Homo sapiens: one gene and its partners. The protein of the gene in region 3 interacts with the protein of the main gene of each other region in a biochemical or structural test. Each region holds a gene or a part of one and is shown on either strand. Other genes may lie near its edges.

The links. Proteins that work in one complex are often made in the same cells at the same time.
Region 1: of the proteins of CEP250 (region 3) and NEK2, one has a biochemical effect on the other in vitro, tested with the Homo sapiens proteins (one study listed by BioGRID).
Region 2: of the proteins of CEP250 (region 3) and SIK2, one has a biochemical effect on the other in vitro, tested with the Homo sapiens proteins (one study listed by BioGRID and IntAct).

What each region holds. Positions count from the first base shown.
Region 1 is NC_000001.11:211,665,621-211,673,308, forward strand, and holds part of NEK2 (serine/threonine-protein kinase Nek2), read right to left. Parts: intron 5,665-7,688; coding exon 5,582-5,664; intron 4,788-5,581; coding exon 4,661-4,787; intron 3,713-4,660; coding exon 3,493-3,712; intron 1,612-3,492; coding exon 1,486-1,611; coding exon of another isoform or gene 1,442-1,485; exon of another isoform or gene 797-1,441; intron 1-796. UniProt on the Homo sapiens protein: Protein kinase which is involved in the control of centrosome separation and bipolar spindle formation in mitotic cells and chromatin condensation in meiotic cells.
Region 2 is NC_000011.10:111,695,762-111,703,449, forward strand, and holds part of SIK2 (serine/threonine-protein kinase SIK2), read left to right. Parts: intron 1-1,140; exon of another isoform or gene 1,141-1,194; coding exon of another isoform or gene 1,195-1,206; intron 1,207-2,983; exon of another isoform or gene 2,984-3,044; coding exon of another isoform or gene 3,045-3,119; intron 3,120-5,124; coding exon 5,125-5,249; intron 5,250-5,690; coding exon 5,691-5,814; intron 5,815-7,441; coding exon 7,442-7,662; intron 7,663-7,688. UniProt on the Homo sapiens protein: Serine/threonine-protein kinase that plays a role in many biological processes such as fatty acid oxidation, autophagy, immune response or glucose metabolism.
Region 3 is NC_000020.11:35,513,907-35,520,461, forward strand, and holds the end of CEP250 (centrosome-associated protein CEP250), read left to right. Parts: 3' UTR 1-120; coding exon of another isoform or gene 121-123; 3' UTR 124-3,075; coding exon of another isoform or gene 3,076-3,123; 3' UTR 3,124-5,374; downstream 5,375-6,555. UniProt on the Homo sapiens protein: Plays an important role in centrosome cohesion during interphase. Recruits CCDC102B to the proximal ends of centrioles. Maintains centrosome cohesion by forming intercentriolar linkages.

The sequences.
Region 1 (7,688 bases), on a different chromosome or scaffold from region 3:
TGACAGTGTGGAATCTATGAAAAGCCAGAATAAATATTTTTATAATATTGAAATGGTAGACTGCAATATTGGGAAAAAAGAAGGTATTTTAACAGAGATGAAGCCAAAGTTTCATATAATCCTTGTTTCATTTACTTCTATCAGTAGTTTCATTTCTTTCCATCACTTATTCACTACAAAGTTATTGTGATCATCAATCTAACTTAAGTAGGGTTTTTTGTCTGTTCCATTTACAAAATGCTGCCAATGCTCACTAAATTGATCACACTACATCTCAATTTATTAAAGATGGGAATAATAGCTTTCATATATGCTGTCCTACATGGAATAAGGGAGTTATAAAAACTCTAAATTTTATTGAAAATTCAGATGCTCGATTTTTGAAACCAACAACTTTTAACAGTTAGTTTGTGTCATAAATCAAGCAAAAAGATGTTTCACAGTTTGCATTTTACATAATCTTAAAGAGTCGATTAAATTAGATTGAGGGTTTCTATAAAATGGAGAATGTTAGACAATGGTTCACTGGTATATACGATAACCACATCTCAGTGCGGCAGAGTGAAGGGACAATGCCACACAAAGGCAGGGCCCTGAGAAAGCTGAATATCTATATACCAGACTTTAAATAAAGAAGGAAATGCAGAGAACATATGTAGATATTAAACAATCAAATTTCAACAAATATGTCTTTCAACTTGAAAGGGTGTTAGCAAAGATCCAAACGTGACAGCCTATTCTGCAGGTGGCTTATCATGCCTTTTAAGCCATGCTTTCTATGAAAAATGAGGCATGGCAATATTAAAATGTTTATTTTTACTTGAAATGCAGTTTATCTCTCTGAAATCTGAAACATACAATAGTTTTGTAAATGCCCTAATTTTTAAAAATAAGTATCGGCTGGGCACGGTGTCTCATGCCTGTAATCCCAGCACATTGGGAGGCCGAGGCAGGCGGATCACGAGGTCAGGAAATCGAGACCATCCTGGCTAACACGGTGAAACCCCGTCTCTACTAAAAATACAAAAATTAGCCGGGCTTGGTGGCGGGTGTCTGTAGTCCCAGCTACTTGGGAGGCTGAGGCAGAAGAATGGCGTGAACCCGGGAGGCAGAGCTTGCAGTGAGCCGAGATTGTGCCACTGCACTCCAGCCTGGGCTACAGAGTGAGACTCCATCTCAAAAAAAATAAAAAAATAAATAATGATAATAAAAATAAGTATCAATTACTAAACATGTAGTTTGATAAGGTAAAGAAAATCAAACATGAAATTCTATGACTCATTGCCTCAGGTCTATGAACCCAGGAAATAAATCATTGCTATAACAGAATTTTGTTTCCATTGAAATGCATATATTCAATGAAATCCATCTTAAAATTTGAGATTTGTAAATGAAAAGGGCTACCTAAGCCACTTTGGGAGCAACACTGGTGCACATTTCTTCATTTGTAGCACCAGCTTCTGTTGACCAAGTTGATTCTCATACCTGGATTACTTGCCAGAGACAGGAACTTCCGTTCCTTTAGCAAGCTGTAGTTCTTCAACAGATTTTCTGCTCTAGCCAGTTTGTCCTCTGCTAGTCTCTCACGAACACAAAGCTCCTGTTCTTTCTCTTTAAAAAGAGAATGGACAAAGAAAAAAAAATTAACAACTGACCTTGACTAAAAAACAATTTACATTTGGCAATCTTATCACTACTAGCATGCCTGATACTGATAAGCAATGTTTGGGGAAAGGATTCTCACTATGCCTCAGTCAACCTGATTATGTTAGTTTTTAATTGAGTGTTTTAGTAGGCTGTATGTTATCTTAGATTTTCTTGAAAGGACTTGTTTAAACAAATACAAAGTTAGCTTCAACCTTTGGTCATCTTTTGTGGGAGTAACTCATTTGGGAAAACAAAAAACTAAAGCTATCTCTGCTCTTCACTGAAGATAAGCAACAGCTAATTTTCAGGGCATGATCTGGCCTCACAGTACAAAAATCTCCTTCTTCTGGTTGAATGACCACACCCAAACAAAAGAAAAAAAACACAATTCAGTTAGGTGGTAGTTCATAGGATTAGTATTAATAACAAATGTTACTATTTATTCATGGCCCCAAATTCAGAAAGTATTCAGATTTCAGTTGCTATATGAAATTATGGCTGGTCACAGTGGCTCACGCCTGTAATCCCAACACTTTGGGAGGCCGAGGCAGGTGGATCACCTGATGTCAGGAGTTCAAGACCAGCCAGGTCAACATGGCAAAACCCCATCTCTACTAAAAAATCAAAAATTAGCCAGGCATGGTGGCAGGCGCCTGTAATCCCAGCTACTCAGGAGGCTGAGGCAGGAGAATTGCTTGAACCCGGGAGGTAGAGGTTGCAATGAACCAAGATGGTGCCACTGCACTTCAGCCTGGGCAACAAGAGTGAAATTCCATCTCAAAAAAAAAAAAGAAAAGAAATTATGAAACACTGGGGAAAGTTATAAGAAAAAGCTTTCTTATTTTTTACAGAGGTTTCCAAGTAAGTATAGGTTGTACCTATACAGTAAGCATATCTCACAGGACTATACAATATTTCATTATTTAAAGCCTGGATTGGGCATAAAGCTGCAGAAGTAAAATCAGGTGAGTCATGAGGGTGACAGGTCACAAATACGACCCCATCTCTCGTCTCCTGATGTTAAAATGAAGAACCTCACTCTGTAGCTACCTTGCATAACCCTAAATGCTTGCGAGTAGCTCTCATCTTGGTGGAGTAGACACACTTTCAATATCAAAACTAAATTAGCATCTAATCAGTTAATACTCATAAGTCAATGTTAATACCCACCAGAGTATTATTTATAGACTTAAAATATCTTGTATCTAGATTCTCTATTGAACTGCCTGAACAGACCAGGTGTGGTAGGTCACACCTATAATCCCAGCACTTTGGGAGGTAAGATGGGAGGATCACTTGAGCTCAGGAGTTCAAGACCAGCCTGGGTAATATAGTGAGACCCCATCTCATTTTCAAAAATAAAAAGTTAAAAAAAAAGAAAAGAATTGCCTGAACATATCTCATCTACATACTGTAGGGTTTTAGACCTGGAATTCTGTTGGAGTGGCCATTTCAAAAGACAAAAGTCATGGTTTTTTATTATGGAAAGCAGCAATTTTAAGACCTTCCTTTACAGTGGGAAAACATTAGGGTATTCACAGTAGAGACGAAAAAGAAAAAAGTAACTCTAGAGTAAAATACAAGGCTATCGTATTAGGGCCATCACAGTTAAGGCCCAATAATATATAACTAGCAACTGATCTCAGAGAAAGATGTCCAACATGAAGGTGCCAGCAAGCCTGATTATTAAAAAGTCTAAAATACATATTTTGGTTTCTCAAGTATTTTTCAAAAGCTTCTAATAAGATCTGTATGTATAAAATATTCTGCTCAAAGAGATATTCAGACACATCAAAATAACCCACTTGGTAGTTCTCCTTTGCTTTGACCCCCATTCAGACTTACGCTCCAATCTTTCTTCTCTTGCTTTGAGAGCTCGCTCTCGCTCCTGTAACTGAATTTCCTTCAGTTTCAGCTCACTCAATACAGGGCTGGAATCCTGCGATTTTTCTGGCTCTCCTAATTGTCGCCCTCTTCTCTCAAGATTTCTTCTTTGCTCGTCTGCAACCAAATCTGCTATTAAAGGGTTCTCAAGAATTTCTTCAACAGAAGGTCGATGGTAATCCTGGGGAAAAAATACTCAGTATTATAGTCAGATTGCATAACAGAATAGTCCTCCTAAGACAGCAGTTAAAATAAAAGGACAAAAATGTGTTTCCAAGACAAAAGAAAGGACTCCTTTATGGCTAGGTCTTAAAAACTTGGAAAAATAAGTTCACTGGTGGTTTTAACTCATGAGGTTCTGGGTCCACAAGGTAATGCAGATGTTAACTTACCTTTTTTCCCTTTTCCCCTTTTCACCTTTCTAAGAAGGTTCAATCCCTGAAGATTGGCACATCTTGTGCTGGGGCTTGGTAGCATTGCTAGGGTCTGTTTTAGGGGAAGTACTGCCCTTGCATTTCTAAACTACATTTAGCAAGATACTCTCTCACTGACTCTCAATCCTGTCACTTCATCTGTATCCTTCTCTGTGATCCTACGGCATTTTCCTTCTTCTCTTATGTCAGCCTGGTCCCCAGAACATCTCCTTCCCCATTCTATAGCCAGAGTTTTTCCACATAATCTCTTTATTGATTTTCCCTCTGTTTTTAGCTGTCCTCCGTCCGCCCTCCATCACCCCTCCCCTTCTTCTGGTCTTTAATCTCTCAATTAGAGCTAGAGGCAGAGTAATAAACTCTTATTTCTGGCCCCTTCCCTCACTACCTGCCACTGTGAGGTAGGCAAGGACAAGGGGAACGAGAATTTGAATTCTTTTTGCAATCTTTCCTTGCTACCGACCATCTGTTAGCATGACAGAGTGGGAGGAGAAATAAAGAAAGCGCAGAAGGTGGGCCAGCAAGGATGTGCAATTTGCCAAATTTACATATGTTTTCACTTGTGTTAACACAGTAAATTTAGCTAAGAAAGTATATTTAACGTTTCTTCAGTCTCCATTGATCTACAAGAGAGAATGTATGCTCTGACACTTAACTGACAGCTAGAAACAGACAATATATCATCTTATCATCTTTACCTTTAAGTTTAACATCCTCGTAATAATTTCATTCAATTCATCAGAGTAACGGTATGGAATTCGCCTGAATTTGCCTTCTCTGATTTTCCCAGCGAGTTCTTTCTGGCTAAAAGCTGTAAATGGAGGCCTAGGGTTAAAAAAGAAGAAGAAGACGACGAAGACATTTTCAAATTGTAAAAATGAAAATATACAATAGGAACTAAATCAAAAGCACAGCTTAAGCTCCAGTTTGTATTTAAGTTTCTACTTCTGGGATTTTCTTCTTATAAGTAAGTTTCCCAACCTTGGCACTATTGACATTTGAGGTCATATAATTCTTTGTTGTGGGGGGCTGTCCTGTGCATTATAGGTATTTTGTAGCCTCCCTGCCCTCTACCCTCTAGATGCCAGAAGCACTCCCCAGCTGTGATAACTAAAAATTTATCCAAACATCATCAAATGCCCCATAAGAGGCAAATTTGCTTCCCTTATCCCTAGTTGAGAATCACTGCTCTACAGAATAGTTTCAAAGGGAAAGAAAATGAAAAGAAGAACAAAGGAAAAGAATTGGAGCTCTTCCCTGCTCTACAGATCCCCAGACCTCTACCCGAGTCTTGTTTCATTTCTTCCACATCCTTACAGTAGCTTTACCTTACCTGCCTGACCTATGTGCTCTCCCTTGAGCTAAGTGTCAATCTAATAAGAAAGCACCTAACCAGCCAAGACCCTTGAACAGTCAAGACCCAGCCTCATGGCTTATAGTTTTAATTTGTGAATAGTTTCTTTTAGCCTGTTCATCTATCTACCTTAATTTTACCCAGGGTACAATTCTTTCAGACTTGAATATACTTTCGTTAGCACAGAGGCTCAAAAAACTGAACCCAGTGAAATGTGACAAACAGTACAAACCTTAGACTAGGAATCTGTCTTCATCATACTTACATTAATGCACATAACTCATACAGCAAGCAGCCCAATGACCAGATATCTGATTTCTCATTGTAGGACATGCGATTCATTTGTTCCTATACAGGGAAAAAGGGTAAGAAAGTGGAAGGTGTTAAGAGTTTATTTTGTTTTGAAACTTAAAAAACACATTAAATTACTCCTGAGATAAAAACAGAACCTCAAAGTTTTTAGCTTATACTTTATCTTGAAATTTATAATGGAAAAAAGGCAATGATCTTGTTCCAATACACTCCATCATACATAATTCATTCACTCATTTTCCATTCACAAATGAAAGTGCTTAGTATAGACTAGGCACTGACAATACAGAGGTGAATATGAGAGACTTCTACTCTCAAGGCAAATTAAGAAACACCATTTTAAAAGAACTAGAGGAAATTTAAGAATAGTCAAAATATGTATCTAGTCCACATTTAAATGGATATAGACATAAATAGCTAATTGAATTATCCATTTATATTTTGTCTTAGTCCACTCCATAAATCACAGTAGTAACTAATATTATCCTTACCTATTTTATTGTTTGCCTTTCTTCCACATCTACAGTAACAACAGCCTACCAGAGCTCCTATTCTCAACAGAGGGAATAGAAGCAATCTCTAGTGGCTGGTTAGTGTTTTAAAGTCCAACTGGTGAGTCTGATGCCACTTTTTGACAATCAGTGCCTTAGGAAAGCTGAACCACTCTAATTACAAGGGCAGGAGGGAAAAGGAACAAAAGAATAGGTTTCAAATTTCCCAAGAACCACTTCTGGATAATTGTCCTTTATGTTAAAAACATTCTATTTGGAATTTGATACAGTGAGAAAATGGTACTGTTCTGGCTATTTTTAGTCAAAACCAAAATCATTAATTTACAAAGTTTTATACTATAGTAAGATCTGTTAACATAATTTATAAATATTTGGAAAATCCTAGAAAGGTGAACTACTAAAATACTAACAAATATTTCTTCATCTTTATCTGTTCAGATGTTATATACTAACACATTAGTGCTATCACAATTGACTTAAACTTTTTAAAAGCCATCAGACAATATCTAATAACAGCCATAAACATTTACCCCAGCAATTTCATTTTATGAGCTACACTCCAAGGAAATAACCAAAAAGGAAGAAAGAATAATTCATACAAAGATATGCAGAGCAGTACTTCTAAGAATGGTGAAACATGTTGGAAACAAAATATCCAGCAATAGAGGTAATTGGTGAGTGGACTCAGCAAGATATTTCAGGGATAGGCAACAAAAAAATAAAATGTACAAAAAGTTAACATTGTAAAAACATGCTATCTGAAGTGAGCAAACTTCCTGAGCTCTGATTCTGCATACACAAGAATCATTTACAGAGCCTCTTAAATGCAAAGTCTAAAATAAAAAGTAAAATATTAAAAAAAAAAAAAAACAGAGTTCAAGAACCCACCCAGAGATCGAAATTCACTCGATGGATTTGGGTTTGGGTTTGGGACCCAGAACTCTGCATTTTAAACAAACACTCCAAGTGAGTCTGATGCAGATAACTAGGACCTACACATTGGGAAACAACTCTTGAGGGCAAGGACAAAATCCATTTCATTTTTGTAATCCTTGAGTTTAATGCATCATAGTCATTCCATAAAAGCTTGAACTGAATATGCTTTAATTTGCATGAATGCTCAAAAAATTGAACCCAGTGAGAGATGACAAACGGCGCAAACCTTAGACTAGGAATCTGTCTTCATCATACTTACATTAATGCACATAACTCATGCAGCAAACAAAAACTGATATAGACTTTATTGGTCTGGTGGTCCATGTGGAAAAATATAACAGTATTTTCAATTCTTGGCTACTAGATATTACTAAACAAACAGAAAACTCAATTTCCCTGCTTCAGAATGCTTAACATTAAAAGATGTTTTGGCTGGGCATGGTGGCTCACGCCTGTAATCCCAACACTTTGGGAGACTGAGGTGAGCAGATCGCTTGAGGTCAGGAGTTCGAGACCAGCCTGGTCAACATGATGAAACCCTGTCTCTACTAAACATACAAAAATTAGCCAGGCATAGTGACATGCACCTGTAGTCCCAGCTACTCTACTTAG
Region 2 (7,688 bases), on a different chromosome or scaffold from region 3:
CAAACAGAATTCTCCATTTTGTATTTGGTTCCCATTAGACAACAATCATCAGAGTTAGCTTATTTACTCTATGCAAGACCCTCTTATTCCTAAAACATTGTGCCTTTGCTAATGATGTTTGGGCACTGATAATTTATATAATTTAGTGATGACAGTGATAATGGTTTTTGTTAGGACCATATAGGTCAGTCAGTCAACTTTCAAAATACAGAGCAGAAAACAATAGCAGCTCTAGGGCTGTGTTCAGATATATCCTTGGTCTGCTGCGGCTGGTTAATTAAGTAAGAGACAGAGGACTCAGCTTTTGAGGCCTAGTTGATTTTCATGAGAGTCGATAACTGATCTGTAATTAAAGACTCTACCCCTAATCCTCTTCTATAAATATTTCAGGCCATATAGAACCCAGGTGAGAGAATATGAATACAAATTGGAGAAGACTAAGGAATCATGAGGCTAAATGCAATGTGGAATCCCTGAACTGAAAAGGAACATGTGACAAAACTCATGAAATGTTAAGTCTGTAGTTTAATTAATAGTAGTGAATCAGTGTTTTGATAATTGAAGCTTAGTTTTGATAATTATACTGTAGGTATGTAAAATGTTAACATTAGAGGAAGCTGGGTGAAGGGTATGGGGAATTCTGAATTTACTGTTGCAACTCTTCTATAAATCTAAAAGTATTTCAAAATTAAAAGTTTAAAAAAGTCAAAATGAAGCCACGTGGCATGGCATAAATGTTTTGTTTATAATAGCAAGCAGAATGTCTGAGGAACATAGCCATAGTTTTAGGTATTAACCTGCATATCACAATTAGAGAAGACATTAAACTAGAAAGATGTTTGCTTTCTAGCAGGGCTAGGCTGGATCTGAGTCTGGTAGAGAGAGAGACGAATGCCCAAGTGATTGTTTTCATAATGTTTTCCAAAAGTCAGATGATGATGTGGAGTCTTATTATTTTGTGTTGTTGCAAGACTTCTGTGTTTGTACAGTGGTTGACATGTGTATGGAATGCTGATGTTTAATGAAGGAATGAATGAATGTGGTTAGTATGATGAAGCATGAGTATAGTCCATTTCATTTGAATAAATGGCAGTAAGAAATAAATCCTGCATTTTCACATTTCATTCCCCCCCTACTCACCTCCCACTTCACTATATGCATTTAGGCAGAAAGCTGCAGACTGGGTGAAGCAAGTTATCCAGATTCCTGTGAAGAAATTAAAAGGCTCTTATTTTTAAGTGTCTTTTGCTGCCACTTTTTAACCCTGACAATTATTAACTTCTTCAAAAATAACTATTTTTGACATGCCAGTGAGAGACATAAAGGTGGTGGTTAACAATGAAGGCTCGAAGTAGTTAAACTTGGTTTCTATTCCACTGCTGCAACTTAGTAGCTAGCTGTATAACCTCTGGCAAAATACTTAACTTTATACCCTCACTTTCTCCTAAAATAAGGATACTTCATAGAACTAAGAAGAAATTATCTTCAGAGAGTTTAAATCAGCTCCTGTCACATAGTAAAGCACTTTTAAGAGGTGGGAACAACATATTCATCTAGCAGATCTTTATCGAGCAGCTGTTGTCTGCAGATGATATGCTGAGAGCTGGGAGTACAGAATGTTGTCCCCCATTCCCTGCTCCCGAGGAACTTAGTCTGATGGGATAGACAGATAAGTAAAATAATAAATAATAATAGCAATGATAGCTTCTGTTTATTGACTACCTACTATGTTTCAATCGCAATATAATATCTATTTCTATTAATTCAACTACTTCATGAAATGTAAGTGTTGTCCCTATTTTTCAAATGAGGAAACCAAGGCTCTAAGAAGTTAAGTAATTTGTCCAAGATTGCATAGCTAATAGAAAACCCAGGATTTGATCCCCAATCTGCCTAACACCAAAGTCTTCCTTAACCCATTCTTCAGATGATTACAAATACAGTGTTTGGCAGAGGGCAGTGGCTCACACCTGTAATCCCAGCACTTTGGGTGCTGAGGCAGGAGGGTCACTTGAGCCGAGGAGTTTAAGACCAGCCTACACAACATAGTGAGACCTTGTCTCTACCCAAAAAAAGGAAAAGAAAAAAGGAAAAAAAAATTAGCCAGGCATGGTGGCGTGAGTCTATGGTCCCAGCTGCTTGGAAGGCTGAGGCAAAAAGATCACTTGAGCCTGGGAGATGAAGGCTACAATGAGCTGTGATTCACACCACTGCCCTCCAGCCTGGGCAACAGAGCAAGACCAGTCTCAAAAGAATATATAAATATAACATTTGAAGTGCTTTGACAAGGTTATAGAAGACCTCAGCACATGTAATATTGTAACAGCTTAGTGAGCCTGTCTTTCAGTGTTTCTTTTAATATCCCTATAGACCCAAGTTTCTATATTCATATTACCTACAGAAAATAGAAATAACTGCTTAGTACCACTCCTCCTGTAAGCAAACAGGAAGCTTTCTTTGTGCTAGATTTGTAAAGCAGAGGTTGAAACTGGGCTACCACGGGTCCAGAGAAGTGTTCCCAGCTCTTGTTCTCTTGCCTGTGAAGTGTACTATGAGAGCCTAAGGCAATAAAGAGGCCAGGCCACCTTCTTGACAGGCCTCTGTCCCATTCACTCCTTTGAGTTTATTTCACCAGCTGTGGGGAAGTTCAGAATGAAGTGGCTCTATAAGGGCTCCTGGAGACATTAAAACTTACCAATGGGCCAGGTGGTGGCTCACACCTGTAATCCCAGCACTTTGGGAGGCCACAGCGGGTGGATTGCGTCAGCCCAGGAGTTGGAGACCAGCCTGGGAAACATGGCAAATCCCTGTCTCTACTAAAAATACAAAAATTAGCCTGGTGTGGTGGAGCACACCTGTGCTACTCAGGAGGTTGAGGTGCGAGGACTGCAGTGAGCTGAGATCGTGCCATTGCACTCTAGCCTGGGCAACAGAGCAAGACCCTATCTCAAAAAAGAAAAGAAAGAAAGAAAAACAACCTTACCAGTGCTATTTGGAGAGTATCCTCAATTTACAGGCACTAAAACTCATCCTGTGATTATGGTTTAAAGTGCAGCAATTATTGTATGTATTTCAGGATCTCTGAACACACATCCGAGAGCTTCTTGTGCTGCTTTATCCTGTGAGTGAAATTAACATTTGAACATAGTCCTTGACTCATTTAACATCTAGTCCTTGACTCATGAGAACATCTAGTTTTCGACTCATGGGAACATCTAGTCCTTGACTCATTTGAGAGTATAGTTTTTCTAGAAAATTAGAAATATATATATCTGTATGTGTCCATATGAGATATGATGTTCTAGGAGTGGTTAGTCATAGAGGTGGTACTGTGAAGATAAGGCCTTTCTGACAGTCATTTTGGAAAGTGGACTGTGGAGCTGAGCTGAGGTTACATTGTAAAGAGAGAACTTCTCCCTGGCACCACCTTTGCCTCACACTCCTGGATACCAAAGGCAGACCACAGTGTTGTTCACCAGGTTTAGACTGTATCTGAAGCTCTTTCCCCAGATGTACCCTCTTTTCTCTCCTAAACCTTGAAGCTCCCTCTAAACTTTTTCTACCCCTCCTATCTACTTTTTTGGGACCTTTTTCTCTGAAAGGCAACAGTTGGTGGTAATGGTTTCACAGGAGGAGGAGAGCTGACCTTTCACGTCTAGTATGCTCTGGCATTTTACATTCTTATTCTCATTTAATCCTCACAGCATCCTATCTGGGTAGGTGGATTATCACTACATTTATAGATATGGAAAAAATAACTTTCCTAGAGGACTTGAAGCTTGAAAGTGATAAAACTGGTAATTAGCTGTAGTTCTCATAACTTCATAGGTTGTACTCTTCCATGAAGCTGTAATAATGGGGATTGTTACTGTTATTACTGTTACTACTGCTTGCCTCTAGTTTTTATGTTAGCAAGCTAAGAGAATGCTTTGCCTAAGGTGCACATGTATGTATGGTCTCAAGGTATGAATGGAGTGAGCTTATTTTAACACATTGGGCCTTTACAGCAACCTGCTGACTAAGTGTATTTATCATTTTCACTTTACAGATGGGGAAACTAAGGCTCACAAAGACTGATCCAAAGTCACAAATCCAGTCAATCTGTCTGGCAGTAGAGACTTGATCCAGTCTTTCTTGAGCCATCTCTTAAAGCTCACTGTGCATGCAATGCTGTGCTCCAGCTGGGTGGAGAGCCAGTTCCTGTCACTGAGACAGGCTCTTCAGTCAGGAGTATGTAGCAACATAAGACAGCATGAGTATAACTTAACAAGATAATAGGTATTTGTTTCTTCGGTAAGAATATGAGACTATAAAGGCTTAGCAAAAGGGTATGAACTTGCATTTGTAACAATACTTACTAAATTTTTTAATGCATGTTGAAGGCATCTAAGTAGTGTTTCCAGAGTGCATTCTCTGTATCAAAACTGTAGAGTCAGTATGGCTAAGATCATAAGGAGAAGGCCATTAACTGTTTTGAACTATAATGCCACTGCGATCCATAAATTAGTAAATAAGTGATGGTGATAGGTGGCTTGTGGCTGGGCTATGTGGCCATCATATGTTAATGAGCTATTCAGATGGTTATCTGCCTAAAACAGGATATGTGGACCAACACTTAGAGGGTTGTTACTTAGGAAACACTGCACTCAGTTGCCTTCAAGGGTTATATATCTGGGGTAATGGCAGCCAGTCACTCAGTTGTGTTTAGGTGAATGTCTTAGAGCTTTACTCATTTGTTTCTTTCCTTATAGACCATTTAAGATAAAGAGCTCTTTAGCAGTCATCAGGTAATTGAAATTCTAAGATTATCAAATACTAGTTGGGTTGTCCACTTTAAGGCTGATTTTCTTTCACATGATATAAAGTATTTTTCCAGTCTCTCACTTACTCGCTTTGGGAAGAAAACTTGATTCATTTACACATTCATTCAGCAACATTCCTTGAGTACTATTTGCTAGTCATTGTGCTAATGCCAGGGAAACATCACAAGATAAGATGCCATCCCAGTCCTCACAGTAAATAGTAGTGATATTGTTAATATAGCATATTAGAAAATTTATTACAGAGAAATGCAGTATAGTTTGAGAGCATAGATGAAAATAACATTTATTTCCATCCTAATAGATTTCGGTTTTGGAAATTTCTTTAAAAGTGGTGAACTGCTGGCAACATGGTGTGGCAGCCCCCCTTATGCAGCCCCAGAAGTCTTTGAAGGGCAGCAGTATGAAGGACCACAGCTGGACATCTGGGTACTGCTTTGCTTTGCTGTGTTGTTAAATGCATCTATACTGATAATACTTGGTGTTCTGGCCCATCTTAGAAGCTCCTGGTACTTAACACATAAGCAGTATTTCATATTTTCCCCATCCACTGGACTATAATTACTCAGAGCATCTTGAAATGGATCCCTAGGAAAGAATTTCTAAGGATAGGTGTTGTCATCCTAATATCAGCAGTAATTTAAAGTTAAGTAGTAATCAAAATTATCAGATTCAAATTCTTTGGTATTTATTATAAGATACTTATTGTAGTAGTCAGGGTTTTGGATTTTTTTCAAATTCTGAGAAAATAATAAATCCAGACAGGAATTTTTCAGTCCATATGATTTCAAGAGCCCTGGGGATGTTCAGGAAAACAAAGAGTGTTTGACGTTCTTGGTAGAAAAGTCTCTGCATTGTTTTCTTCCCTAGAGTATGGGAGTTGTTCTTTATGTCCTTGTCTGTGGAGCTCTGCCCTTTGATGGACCGACTCTTCCAATTTTGAGGCAGAGGGTTCTGGAAGGAAGATTCCGGATTCCGTATTTCATGTCAGAAGGTAATCAACTTTTCATCTTATTAATGGTGTTTTACAGTGTTAGTGCTCCAAGTGAAATGCCTAGGTAAAAGCTTCTTTTTTTCTAAGAGTTTGGGTGCCAAATAAAGTGACTGAGCTGTAGGTTAAAAGCTATAGAAAGAAGCAACCTCCTTTATGTAGGCGAGACAGGTTCCAGCCTTCTACTTGTAACTAAACACACAGCATTTCCCAGATTAAGAGCAGCATGTCTTCTCATTCATTCTGGGTCTATAAATGTCCCAGGTTTATTTTAGATTTAACGAAGCCCTTTGTAGATACAGATTCACAACCATTTTACTCCAATATGAAATGAACTTTATAAAATTAAAATTTTTTTAATTAAATAAAAAGCCAAACTGGCAAAACTCTGCTAAATTCAGATGATATGCCATAATCCCTGCCTGTCGTGTATTGAGCTGTTACCTAGATAGCAGTTAAGTTTACCCCTTAGTTTCATTTTGGTTATCATTCTTAACTCTGTTCTTTCTACTAAGAGTAGAAATAATAACTCTTCATAGTTAAGAGCATGGACTGTGAAGGCAGACTACCAGACTGCCTGGTTTTAATCCTGAGTCCACTGGTTACTGGCCATATGACTTTCACAAGTTTTGTCTCCTCTCTATCTGCTTCAATTTCCCCATCTATAAAATGGAAATAACAATAGCACCTACCGCACGGGTGTTGTAAGGTTTAATTAAATTAATCTGTCAGTCAGGTGCAGTGGTTTATACCTGTAAGTCCAGTGGTCTGGGAGGCTGAGGCGGGAGGATCTCTTAAGGCCAGGAGTTGGAGACCAGCCTGCACAATATTGCAAGACCCTGTCTCTACAAAAAAGTTTTTTTTCAATTAGCCGGGTGTGGTGGCATGCACCTGTAGTCCTAGCTACTCAGGAAGCTGAGGCAGAAGGATTGCTTACAGTGAGCTGTGATTGCATTACTGCACTCCATCCTGGGCAAGAGACTGAGACCCTGTCTCCAATAATAATATAATAAATAGGCATAATCTGTGTAAAGCACTTAGCACAGCGCCTGCCATATAGTGACAGGAGGTTACCTTATGTGTGAGTGAAGAGCATCATGTCAGCTCAGAGAATATGCTAGTGCTCAAAGTTGCAGCAGTGCGGTTTTCTTGGTGTAGTCAGAAGTAAGTAATATTTTATGTACACTTTTCTCAGCTACAGTGATGTGGAGGAGAGCAGCAGCCCGTTGGAGAGCTCTTTGCCTCGCTTACGTAGCCTTAGTATATCAGCATTAGATATGACTGAGGATCGATTTATTATTTGCTTGTTCTAGGAATGAGGCTTATTTCTTTCCTTTAGTGGAAACCAAAGTCTGTTTCTAGATATTTTCAGTTGTGAAATTCAGTAGAAAGTTTCCTTTAGCCCAGAATCTGATAGACCTACACCCTCCTGTTTTTCTTAGGTATTTGTTCACCATGTGAACTTGAGAAATATAAGTAGCCTGCATGTGTTCATTTATTCATTTGACCTTCTGCTTTCCAGTAGAGGATACAAAGATTAACACCCTTGTACAAAGTCACATGAGTCAAGCAAATAACCCTGAAGTGCAAGGTGATTCTTGTGACTTTTGTAACATTGTGTTTTCTATAGATTGCGAGCACCTTATCCGAAGGATGTTGGTCCTAGACCCATCCAAACGGCTAACCATAGCCCAAATCAAGGAGCATAAATGGATGCTCATAGAAGTTCCTGTCCAGAGACCTGTTCTCTATCCACAAGAGCAAGAAAATGAGCCATCCATCGGGGAGTTTAATGAGCAGGTTCTGCGACTGATGCACAGCCTTGGAATAGATCAGCAGAAAACCATTGAGGTAAAGTGATCAGAGATTTCGGGGTT
Region 3 (6,555 bases):
ACCAGATATTCAGAGCAGGGCTGGCCTTCAGTTCAAGTGTAGACTGTGCTCTTGCCCTCACACTCGAGCTTGTGGATGATCTTCCACTCCGGCTTTCTAAAGTACACTTTCCTTGCCCAGTAGCAGGATTGCCTCTGTGGAGTGTCCCACCAATAATGGTGACAACTGCTGTTTTCATCAGCTCCAGACCCAAAGAGACCTGAAGTGGGGAAGTGTGAAGGAAGGAATATGTGTCATCCAGGGGGGACCCAACTTTGCCTAAGGGCATGAGGCCGGAGCCTCCTTTCCTGACCTTGTCACATGTGGCAGGGTATAACCAGAATGGTGAATCCAGCAGACGGGAGGAGTCCCTGGCAGTCCAGCCAGTTCTCGTGGATGTACTTGAGGAAGGTGCAATTGGCCACCAGAACATGCAGGAGTAGAGGTTAGAGCTCAGCCACAGAGATTATCTTCTTGCAGAAAACTTTTTTCCCCCTTCCTAATCTTGTCTGCTTTGATAGAAGCTGGTACTGGCTGGAAAGGCCTGAAAGCAGGAGGGGACAAGAGTCGTCAGAGGCTGGGCAATGTTCTTGTTTCCGGGGAGTGCTGAGGTCCGGCGGGTGCTGCCCCTGTTCTCTCAAGGATCCCACGTGCTTTGTGTGTTAGAGCAGTGACCATCACCTCCCAACCCAAGGACCTTTGCTGCTCTGCTTCCCACATGGGACTGCCAGCACCCTGAAGGCAGAAAAACTGAATGTACCCGTTAAAGGAGGAGAAGCTGGTGGTGTATGTTGAGATAAGGAGGGTGGGGAGTGTACAGTTACAGGCTGCACAGGGAGGGCAAGATCAATGTTGACACCAAAGTGCCAAAGGCTGTCTGCGCCAGGTCTGGGGCCCCCACTGGTCATACCGCCTGATAAAACCATTGCAGTCCACACTAGGTCTGGAGGCTTCGACACCCACAGCATGTGGGTGTTCTCATGCAGGCCATGAGTATTCGGGGTGCTTTAAGTGCAGGGGAGTTCTGTTGTCCACGTTATTCTTAAAGCCCAGAATAGGCCCTGTTTTATTCTACAGAGATAGGAAGGCACTGGGGCTCACAGAGTGGTGCTGCTTCCCACCCTCACCCTTCTGCCCCCACCTGAGCACAGTGTGGTGCTCAGTGATGGTTATCCTATATTCCAAATACGCATGGCCCAGGACTGGCAGAGTCGGAGCTCGGGGTCTAGCTGTGACCTGGGGATCGGTTGGAGTAGCTTCTTGACCAGCCGGAATTGGGTTAGGTGTCCTAGCATTGGTGCCTATGGAGAAGAACACAGACTGTTTATCACTCACCCCTGGTTCCAGTACCAAGGAAAGGCTGGAGCCATTGCAACTGGAGGCCCAGCGGAGGAAGGGATCAAGAAGAGGATGCAGCCCAGAGCCCAGGACCGAGCATCCACCGGCCTCTGGAGATGGCGTGGTCTCCAGTTGCATCGGGGCTTCAGGGCCCATCTGAAGTGCTGATCAAACCAGGCAGACACACCATGCTGGTGAAGGCAGGCTTTGTAGATGCGGGGCTGAATTGAGCAGCCACAGAACCTCTGCAGCTCTGGGGCCAGTGGCAGAACTTCTAGAAGTACCTGTGGGGTGGGAAACCCCAGCCACAAAAGCAGTGAGCTGACTTCCAGGCCTGAGGCTTTGCCTGCAGGCCTCATCTCAGCCCATGGGACAGATTCCTGGTTTTTTTAGTTTGGCCTTGGGGTAGATGATACCTTCAGCTGTCCACCCTGCAATACCTCACCTCCTGCCTTCTGACCCAGTACTCTGCAGAGCGGGGGAATGGGGCCAGGGGACAGGGGCAGGGAAGAGGAAGAAGCAAGAGCTGCCAGTGTGCTCCAAACCAAGAGAGCCCTCCACATGATTCTGGGCACAGCTGAGGAGGAGTGCAAGCTCAACTCTGCTCACCACACTTAAGAAGCAGGCAAGGGAGGATGAAGGGCAAAAACATGGGGTCCTGAGGCCCTTTTACTCCCTCTACCCTGCTGGAGGTGAGGATGAGAGGTGAGACTTCGTTGGACTGTGCTCCTGGCCAGTTGATCTCACCCAACTCATTACATCAGTAGCCTGGTCACAGGGTGGACACTCTGACCTCTTCTTAGCCTTTCATTGGCAATACTACCAGCTCTATATATGCCCTTATAGGGCCTGAACCTTGGCTCAGGTGGATGGGCTTGGAGGTAAAATAATTGAATGGGTCAGGGGTAGGAGGAGAGATGAGTCTCTGCCAAGGCTGTGTGATGTGTCATCTGAGAGAGTGGGTAACCCCTATTCCCAGCACATGGCCATTTATTTAGAGCCAGGGAGGGGGACGAGAATTCATATTCAAATGTGATTCTTTCTTAATTACTACCAGTTGTTCAGGTGAGGGAATCAGGGAAGGCCAGATTAATAATCCACACATTGCCCTTGCACCTCCTGTCTTGGTTTCCTATCAAAACCTCTCCCGTATCTATGAACATTCCAGCCCTGCAGGTCAGATTGCTGGCCAGGAGTAGTCTCACATTCTAGCTGACTGATGGCCTCGGCTTCTGCTGTTGTATGTGGTTTGATGATTCATGCTGGAGCCTTTGGCTATAACTCTCTTCCCTGTATAAGGGCCATCTGAAGTTTGTCTGCCTGACTCCATTACCTGGTGAATGAGATTGGCTAGCTGCTGCTCCTGCCCCAGCTATTCAGTCATTTGGCAAATACTCATTTAAACAAAGCTCCACAGGGATCTCTGAGAAGGAGCTCACCTCTAGGCACACAGAACCTGGACACAGATGAAAGTTTGCAGAATGACCCAGTTGTGCAGAAGAGACCCACTGGCTGCTCTCAGTGAGGCCAGGGAGAGTCAAACAGAGCATCTTGGACAAAGAGAGGGCTTGAAGGCCCTTTCAAAGTGTCAAGCCAGTTGGATGCACGGGTTGTGTGGAGTCCAGGGGTACATCCAGAAGCAATGGCAGGTGTTATCCATTCATTCAGGTTAGACCTCTGAGCAGACGGCAGAAACGTCAGCCACAGGTGAGCATAAGCTCAAACCCCCCCATTGAAGGCTACATTCTTGTCCCACAGGGCAGAGCACATGGCAAGTGGCATGCTGACTCAGACACCGGGCACTGAGAAAAGTGGGAAGCCATGGTCACAGACTCTACATTCCCCTCTCCTGTTGGCCTCCATCCCTTCCTCAACCGTCCGCAGAACACCTCCTTCCAGCACCTTAGCTCCTGCCTCCCTCTGGACCTATTCAGTCCTCAAGGGTGCCCTGCTAAAGGCTGGGCTGAAAGCTAAGAGGAGAGGTGGCATTCAATGTGTCCTGTGTCCTCCCTGGGGTTGATTAAGGGGTCGATGCCCAATAGAGTCCTTCATCTTGGTGTTCAGCCCAGGGTCCAGCTGCCAAGGGAAGGCTTGGCAATCAAGGGTGATGGAGATAAGAATGAAAAGGGGCACCACCCTGTGCCAAAGCTGGCATGTTGTATATCTGAGAGAGGAGCTGCCTATTCACAGTGTAGGGTTGTCAAGCTGGAGGCAGGGAGAGAAAAGCAAGAGCTTTTTGGTTCCTCTTGAGGATAGAATCTATAGGAAAATGTAAGAGGGTTAAAAATAAATTTCCCATGCATCCAAACTTTTTTCTTTGGTAGACTTTCTTGTCATCTATTTAAAATGAAACAAGTGCATGTACGTGGTTAAGACATTTTAGCTAGGAATGATGGTGCGTGCCTGTAGTCCCAGCTACTTGGGAGGCTGAGGCAGGAGGATCGCTTGAACCTGGAAGGTCAAGGCTGCAGTGAGCCGAGATCATACCACTGCACTCCAGCCTGAGTGATAAAAGTGAGACCCTGTCTCAAAAAAAAAAAAAAAATTAAAGAAGTTAAACAGTGCCGGGCTTGGGGGCTCACGCCTGTAATCCCAGCACTTTGGGAGGCCCAGGCAGGCAGATTGCTTGGGCTCAGGAATTCAAGACCATCCTAAGCGAAAAAATATAAAAATTAGCTCAGTGTGATGATGTGCCTGTAGTCCCAGCTACTCGGGAGGCTGAGGTGGGAGGATCACCTGAGCCCAGGGAGGTCAAGGTTGCAGTGAACCATGATCATGTCACTGCACTCACTCCAGCCTGGGCAACAGAGCAAGACTGTCTCAAAAAAAAAAAAAAAGGAAATTAAATAAAAAGAAGATAGCAGTTTCCCACCTCATTCTTCTCAAACTCCTCTTCAGAGGCAGCGGGTTTTGTTTTTTTTTTAACTATGTTTTTCTACTGGCTCACTTTATTCCTCTAAAATAGTAACTTGTCTATGTGGTGCCATAACGGGTCCAGTATCTGGACACGAGGCCGCACTACCTACACCTTTGGGGATTCTCGGATCCTGACTCTGAGCTACCTCATTCCTAGACACCTGGTGCACCACAATGTGTCAGGGATGTCGGTTTATGTGGGATATTTGCATTTTGTTAGGTTGTGTGTGGTAGTTGAGCAGCCAAGGGGGTAGCATGCGGTGGATATTTGTTTTAGATACACAGTAACTGGAAACTCATTTACTGAGGCTATTTGGTTACCCTGAACTACTGTTTCTACCAAAAAGGCAGGATAAATGCTCCCTCAACACACACCTTTAATTACCAATTTTCAGAGTAAGGGGTTGAGGTAATAGCCACCGCCAGTTTTCCCTTTCTCTTTGAGTATCATTATGAGCTCAAAGTTTTTTATATATTCACTATGATTCAATCATGACAGTTGCTATTTTTGATGCTCAAATTGCCGCAAATCTAATGTCCAAGTGTTCTTGTACTTGTCTAGGCCTAGAATCTTTTAGTGAAGAAAAAGTATTTAGAAGACAAAAATCAGGCTGAGTGCAGTGGCTCACGCCTGTAATCCTAGCACTTGTGGGAGGCTGAGGCAGGCGGATTGCCTGAGCTCAGGAGTTGGAGACCAGCCTGGGCAACATGGTGAAACCCCGTCTCTACTAAAATACAAAAAATTAGCCGGGGGTGGCGGTGTGCACCTTGTAGTCCCAGCTACTCAGGAGGCTGAGGCAGGAGAATTGCTTGAACCCAGGAGGCAGAGGTTGCAGTGAGCTGAGATCGCGTCACTGCACTCCAGCCTGGGTGGCAGAGCAAGACTCCGTCTCAAAAAAAAAAAAAATACGAAAAACAAAAAACATAATCTGGATTGCAGGGCTGATCGTTGCTAATGGAGTGTTATGGCTGTTCAGATGACAGAGGGAGAAAATGTACTTTGTAAACTGTTAGTTCAATGAGGTTATGATTGCACAACAATGTGAACATACTTAATGCCACTGAACTTTATTGCCATTGATAACTTTTAAATGGTAAATTTTGTGTATTATTTTGTCACAATAAAAAGTTTGAAAATCGAGTTCATAATATTTCCAGTTTGGGCCGACCACGGTGGCTCATGCCTGTAATCGCAGCACTTTGGGAGGCTGAGGTGGGTGGATCACAAGGTCAGGAGTTCGAGACCAGCCTGACCAACATGGTGAATCCCTGTCTGTACTAAAAATACAAAAATTAGCCGGGCGTGGTGGTGCGCGCCTGTAATCTCAGCTACTCAGGAGGTTGAAACAGGAGAATCACTTGAACTCGGGAGGCGGAGGTTGCAGTGAGCCGAGATCGCGCCACTGCACTCCAGCCTGGGCGACAGAGTGACACTGTCTCAAAAAAAAAAAAAAAAAAAAAAAAAATTCCAGATTGAATTTAATGTCACAGAGTTTTTAGCCTGTCCACCTGCCCAATTTTGTATTGTTTCTTTTTTTTTTTTTTTTTTTTGAGATGAAGTCTCACTTTGTCACCTAGGCTGGAGTACAATAGTGCGATCTTAGCTCACTGCAACCTCTGCCTCCCAGACTCAAGTGATTCTCCTACTTCAGCCTCCCAAGTAGCTGTGATTACAGGCAGCCTCCACCACACCTGGCAAATTTTTGTATTTTTAGTAGAGATGGAGTTTCACTATGTTGGCCAGGCTGGTCTTGAACTCCTGACCTCAAGTGATCCACCTCCCTTGGCCTCCCAAAGTGCTGGCATTACAGGCGTGAGCCACCACACCTGGCCTGTGTCTAGTTTCTAATGTTGTTAATATAAGTAGTTATTTACTTATTCAAGACCAGCCTGGGCAATATAGTGAGACCTCAACTCTACAAGAAAATTTAAAAATTAGCTGAGGGTGGTGGCACGCACCAATAGTGCCAACCATTCAGAAGGCTGATGTGGAAGGATCACCTGAGCCTAGGAGGCAGAGGTTGCAGTGAGCCGTGATCATGCCAGTGCACTCTATCCTGGGTGACAGAGTGAGACTCTGTCTCTAAATAATAATAATAATACCAGCACTATAATGAAAATACTGAGTCAAGTTTAAAAAAAAATTTTTTTTTTTGAGACAGAGTGTCACTCTGTCGCCGAGGCTGGAGTGCAGTGGTGCGATCTCGGCTACTGCAACCTCCACCTCCCAGGTTCAAGCGATTCCCCTGCCTCAGCCTCCTGAGTAGCTGGGATTACAGGCACACACCGCCACGCCTAGCTAATTTTTGTATTTTTAGTAGA